2 separate regions of the Homo sapiens genome follow, and region 1 is linked to region 2. Evidence: fine-mapped expression QTL. A gene starts in region 2. The other region holds a variant in brackets. All regions are shown on one strand. Distances are between the middles of the regions. Region 1 holds the start of TMCO6 (transmembrane and coiled-coil domains 6). Region 2 holds the start of APBB3 (amyloid beta precursor protein binding family B member 3).

What was found.
Region 1: its variant is fine-mapped to the expression of APBB3 in whole blood (TOPMed, PIP above 0.99).

Annotation. Positions count from the first base shown.
Region 1 is chr5:140,637,082-140,639,988 of GRCh38, forward strand. TMCO6 (transmembrane and coiled-coil domains 6) reads left to right here and starts at 2,370. Exons shown (of 12, transcript NM_018502.5): 1 at 2,370-2,531; 2 at 2,658-2,770. The coding sequence starts at 2,447. RefSeq lists a silencer at 2,182-2,431. The variant G/A (reference allele first, on the strand shown) is at 1,569.
Region 2 is chr5:140,563,552-140,566,458 of GRCh38, forward strand. APBB3 (amyloid beta precursor protein binding family B member 3) reads right to left here and starts at 1,047. Exons shown (of 13, transcript NM_133173.3): 1 at 646-1,047; 2 at 201-364; 3 at 43-119. The coding sequence starts at 694. SLC35A4 (solute carrier family 35 member A4) reads left to right here and starts at 1,277. Exons shown (of 3, transcript NM_080670.4): 1 at 1,277-1,307; 2 at 2,322-2,420. LOC131768270 (SLC35A4 upstream open reading frame protein) reads left to right here and starts at 1,277. Exons shown (of 3, transcript NM_001394034.2): 1 at 1,277-1,307; 2 at 2,322-2,420. The coding sequence starts at 1,293. It overlaps MIR6831 (microRNA 6831), which reads right to left and starts at 200; the gene lies at 120-200. RefSeq lists enhancers at 205-264, 873-1,479, 1,235-1,354 and a silencer at 735-914.

The sequences.
Region 1 (2,907 bases), 74 kb after region 2:
ATGCTGGTAGAAAGAAAAGGGAAGGATGCAGGCAGAGAAAACAGCTTGTGCGAGAGCCTCCCCCAAGAGTGGGAGTAGGGTGGAGGAGAAAAAGAACAGGGCTTGTTGACAAAGAGAAGGTCCCAGAAGAGGTGAGTCCAGATTGGAGAGGTATGCAGGGGTTAGACCATGTAGGGCTAAGTCGGCCACAATTCCAATTTTGAATGTGAGGAACACGGTTTTTTATTCACTAGTGTTTCCTCAGTGCCTAGTAGACTAGTGGCACTCCACATTTGGTGAAAGATTTTATCCTAAAAATTATGGGAATTCAGTTTTATGCAGAGAAGTGAAATAATGATATCTTTCTCATTTTCATCACATATAAAATGAGAATAATGGTCATTGTGGTGAACATTCTGTAAAGCAAAAATAAAATTCTAAGGCCGCCCCCCACAACCATCTGAATGGACTTCCTCCTCAGCCAGGGCTCTTTCAAAATTAAACCCGAGTGACCGTTTCAGGCCATGATGGGAAGTAGGGGTTGAACGTGCCTCATTATACCTCTCTACCGTTAACATCAACACAGACTTTAAGTTTGATAAGAAACATTTTACAACCCATTCTCTCTGAAGCCTAGGATTTGAAGGTTTCCTCTGCAAATAAGAACTTGGGTCTCCACAATCCTTTATCTTAACCCAGACATTCCTTTCTATTGATTTCAGGTCTTTAGAGAAACTCAACCAATTGTCAACCAGAAAAATTTAAAATCTACCTATAAGCTGGAAGCCCCCCACCGCCCCACTTCGAGTTGTCCCGCCTTTCTGTTGTCCCACAAACCAATGTCTTTCTCTCTTTCCCCCTCCCCTCTCTTCCCTTCCTCCTTTCCTCTTTTCTTTTCTTTCTTTCTTTTCTCCCTTTCTTTCTTTCTTTCTTTCTTCCTTCCTTTCTTTCTTTTCTTTCTCTTAGGAATAACGCTCAAAATCCTAAGGGAAATTGAACACTCGAACAAAGGATTATTAGCAAAGCAATTTTACTTCTGCTCAGAGGGGTGTCTGCTTGGCCAGTCGCCATGAGAGCACACCTGAACAAAGGGGCACGAGAGCCTTTATTCCTGACGCAAGTCCTGCCCCTGTACCCTTTCCCCATTGGCCGGGGTCGGGTCATACAATCTGAACTAATCCCGGTTGGCTAAACATTTGATTTTTTTAGGTAATGTGGGCACGTAAAAGAAAGTGGAGAGGAAAGGGGAAGGGGTGCCTGTAATGAACTAGAAAGTTAGTCCTCTTTCCAAATAATGAAAGGAATGTGAGCTGGTACTGATAACGTCTGGTACTGATAACGTCTTGTACTGTGGCGTGCCTCGGCATCTAACGAAGGCAAAAAGGAGAAAAAGGAAAACAAAAGTGTGTGTGGGGGGGAGTACTATGAATTAAAGAATAAAAGATTGATCTAATTATTTGAAGAGAAACCTCATCATATCCCAGATTTCTTTCTTTCTTTCTTTCTTTTTTTTTTTTTTGAGACGGAGTTTCGCTCTTGTACCCCAGGCAATGGGGCGCGATCTCGGCCCACTGCAATCTCCGCCTCCC[G/A]GGTTCAAACGATTCTCCTGCCTCAGGCTCCCGAGTAGCTGGGATTACAGGCACCCACCACTACTCCCGGCTAATTTTTGTATTTTTAGTAAAGATGGGGTTTCACCATGTTGGCCAGGCTGGTCTCAAATTCCTGACCTCAGCTGATCCACCCGCCCAGGCCTCCCAAAGTGCTGGGATTACAGGCATGAGCCACCAGGCCCGGCCCAACCAGTGTATTTCTTGAATGAACTGAAGTCTCATATCTCCCTAAAATATGTAAAACCAAGCTGTACCGGACCACCTTGGGCACATGTTCTCAGGACCTCCTGAGGGCTGTGTCAAGGGCCATGGTCACTCATATTTGGCTCAGAATAAGTCTCTTCAAATATTTTACAGAGTTGGACTCTTTTCGTTGACAATTCAATGACGCTTCAAGCGTTTTTGGCAGCTCTCATCAGTGGGATCCGCATTAATAGTGAAACGGCATCATGGCGCTTCCCGCAGTTCGGGATTGTTTTGAACTTTCATCTAGAGCGTATTGTGGGTGGGGAAGTTGTGTTTGCTGAGTAGATTGTGACACTGCTGGCTTGGGTCACTCGAGGTCAGGGATGAGAGACTTTTTTTCCTAGAATTGGTAAGACAGGAAATCAATCAGAGGCAGAGCGACGCCTCTGGCTCTGGTCTAGTGGTGCAGCGTCTCTAGCCCTCGCCCCGCCCACCGTCCCCGCGAGGCGTCCACTCGCCGAGCCCCGCCCTCACCCAGCACCCACCCCGCTCCTCGCGCCCTCCCCGCCTGTTCCCGCCCTGTGCTGAGGCTGCGCAGTCGGTGCCATCTTCTACGCCCCTGGGAGCGTTGTGGCTGCTGTTTCCTTCGGCTTTCCTCCTCCTGCTCCACCATGTGGAGCCGACGGCAGGGCCGCCTCAGGCCCACGGTCTGCGGGGTGGAGGAGCTACGGCGCCGCCGGCGGGAGCGGGAGGCAGGTGTGGGCGGCCGAGGGAGCGCGGGGGTATATGGCGGTCGGGGATAAGTTGAGACCCCAGGCTCGGAGCCGCGGGTTCTGGGTTGTGGTCGTCCTTCCCACGCTCAGCCGGCTCCTCTGCCCCCAGCACTGCGGAAGGCGCGGAGGGAGCAGCAGCTGGTCAGCAAGAGGCTGCTGAGAAACGACGCCCCAGAGGAAGCTGGAGAGGGATGTGTGGCTGCGATCCTCGGGGAAACCGAGGTGAGGGGGCAAGGTAGGGTGCGCTGGAGTCCACGCCCGCTGGCGCCAGACTCCCGGGAGTACTCGAGGTCTGCCCCAAACCTGAACGCAATCCACTCTACACTTCCACGCATCCAGTGGGTCAAGCCAGAAACAGG
Region 2 (2,907 bases):
ATGGAACCCCAAGCCTTTCATTTTGCCTGGGCCACCCGTTACCTCCGGTCCAGTGAACTCTCCAGGCTGGAGAAGGATCTCCCTTTGGGGGGCCGCAGTCCCCAGATCCCCTCCGTTCCCTGTAGAGTGGGAGTTAGTCAGTTTAACAGCAGACCTAGGTCCACACATGGGCTCAGACCTCCTCCTCACACTCTACCTACCGTGCCTGGGTCCTCTGCATCTCCTAGTTCCCAGGTTGGGCGCTGCCACTGGGTGCTACCGCTGGGTACATGCCAGTAGTAAGTACCTGCAGCATCGTGGATCTTCCTCCAGCCAGGAGGCAGGCCAGCCTCCACCTCCAGACTGTGGTCCCCCCACAAGTCATCTACAGGAACACCGGATTAGAGAGGAGGGAGCATATGATTTGTGAGTTCAGAATAACATGCTGTCATAATCCCCTCTCCATCCCCAAAATGGGTCAGTTCTTAGGCTGAAGATCCAGGCTCCTCAATCTTGAAGACATCACATGTAAAGACCGGGTTCATTCGCCCCCTGGTCCCTACACAGAGAGGTATCCCCCACCGTCTTTGAGCCCCAGAGTAGCCTTTCGGATTCCCTCGTCCTCCCTCAGCTCCTGGTCTTCCCACCGGGCCCCTCCGTGCACACCATCGCAGTTGACCAGAATGATGGCCAGCATGTAATCCTTGCCCAGCATAACCCCGGCTGCTCCCCGCCAGCCTCTGCCGGCCCGCACTCTCAGCCCAGCGCGACCTCTGGAGCTACTGCGCCTGCAAGCCCAGCCTCTCTGCGCCGCAGGCTGCGGGGCCAGCTGGCGCCGCACAAATACGGGGCGGGACACGGGGCGGGACACGGGCCGGTCCCGGGGGAGGGCCTGAGCCGCACAGCCCGCCCAGGGGTGGTGCGTGTAAACGGGCGTCTGGATCCCCGAATGGTTGCGTGTTTCCGTGTGTGGGTCCGGGGGAGGCCCACGAACGCCAGCGAAACCGCTGACACCACCGCCCAACTATGAACTCATCAGGCGCCTGAAGACCGACACGCCGAACATGCGCCGCGCGCACTCGCGCACGAGTGAGATCATCGCGCCCCGGTCGTGAGTGCGCTCACACGCAGCCTGAGACTCGACGGGAGGGGGTCACGTGGAAGTATCTGAGAGAGGCGTACTTGGCCACTAGGAAAGCACCTCCCCCTTTCCAAAAATGCTCCGGAAGTGCCTTCGCCCTCCGTAAAGATGGCCGGGGCAGTCGGCACGAGGGAGGCGGGGATGCGCCTGCGCAACAAGTTCGGCGGGGAAGATGGCGGATGACAAGGTGAGTGGCCGTGGGGGTGATCTGCAGCCGGGCGTGGTCTTCACTCTCCTTGACCTTTTTAGTTCCGGGGAGAAGCGACTCTGGAGCGGCTCAGGAGTGAGGATGTCCCTTGTTTCTTCTGCGGCTCCTGTCAACTGCCTCAACAGTGTGGAGTGGTGTGGGGAGAGCATTCGGCGAGGCGGGAGGAGCCGTGGATCCCCCAGATGTCCCCTCCTGGGAACCATCACGAACCCGTTACTAGCACAGACTCAAAAACATTCACCCTTAAACACTCCTCACTTTACCCCATTCCCTAGCTCCCGAAATTTTCTTCCCAGTGACACGATGTTTCCAATCACACGGACACTCACACCACCCTCATTCAAACACTCCTTTGCATACATTCTGAATTTCATACTTATATGCGATCAAAATCACTCAGTCCATTTACTTACACACTTGCCGACAGTCTTTTTTGTCATTCTCAGTCACATCCAGTCACTCACATTCAGTTTGGGATGTCCTTGGGAAGAAAGAGGTAAAGCCCATCCAGGAACCAAGACAATAAAATTGTCCAGGAAACTGCCTCGGTCCATTACTCACCATTGGTCTAGAAGCTCAGCATTACCCACACATTTACTAAATGTCAGGCACTAGAACATAGTAGCCAAGACAGACTGGTCACGACTTTCAAGGAGCTCATAATGGAGTCAGTAGTGGTTTCCTGATGGACCTAATTAAAGGTCCCTAGCTGTCCCTCCTGCCTTTCCTACATACTGCTTGCTATATAAAATTCTTGTCAAGGTTGATGTAAGTTACTGGTTCAGATCCCATCTGTCAGTCCCTTCCTGGCCCTCATTTGAATTCTGTGCTTTTCAATGCTTGTCTTTCTTTGCCACTGCCATCTCAGGAAGCTTTTATAGGAAAAGGTCTTTCTGGCTCACCCCATCCCCTCCCAATTCCCAGCTTCTGATGGAATTGAGCAAGGGGTGGGGCTTAGTCAGACTGCTGGAGCCAGCCTCTCGCTTGTCCTAGGATTCTCTGCCTAAGCTTAAGGACCTGGCATTTCTCAAGAACCAGCTGGAAAGCCTGCAGCGGCGTGTAGAAGACGAAGTCAACAGTGGAGTGGGCCAGGTAAGGACTGTCCCACCCCACCCCTGCCTTAGGCTTTATTGCCCAACATGCTCTTGAGAGTGTTAAATGGATGGTAGAGATTTCTTCAGCAAGTGATTATTGAGGGCCTATTCTCAGTCACCCTAAGGACAATTTTTCTGAATGGCACATGAACTAATATCTTAAGTAGTGGTTAAGTAGGTGAAGAGGGGAGGAAAGAACATTCCAGGCAGAACAGCATATGTAAAGGCCTTGTGGTAGGAAGTAGCATTATAAACATGAGGGGTGAAAGGAGGTCCATTTGGCTACAGTAGTTGGGGAGCATGCTAGGAAATGAGGCTGGAGAAACCGGCAGGGCTAGGGGCATCTCTGACCTTGTGTGGCGGTGGAGTTCTATGGTTGGAGCTTTCTGACCCCAGGGTTCTGAGATTGTGTGATCAGAACTGCTTGGTTCTTTTTCTGGCCCCAGAACCTTGGGAAAAATCTGGAGAAAATACCACGGTTGTCC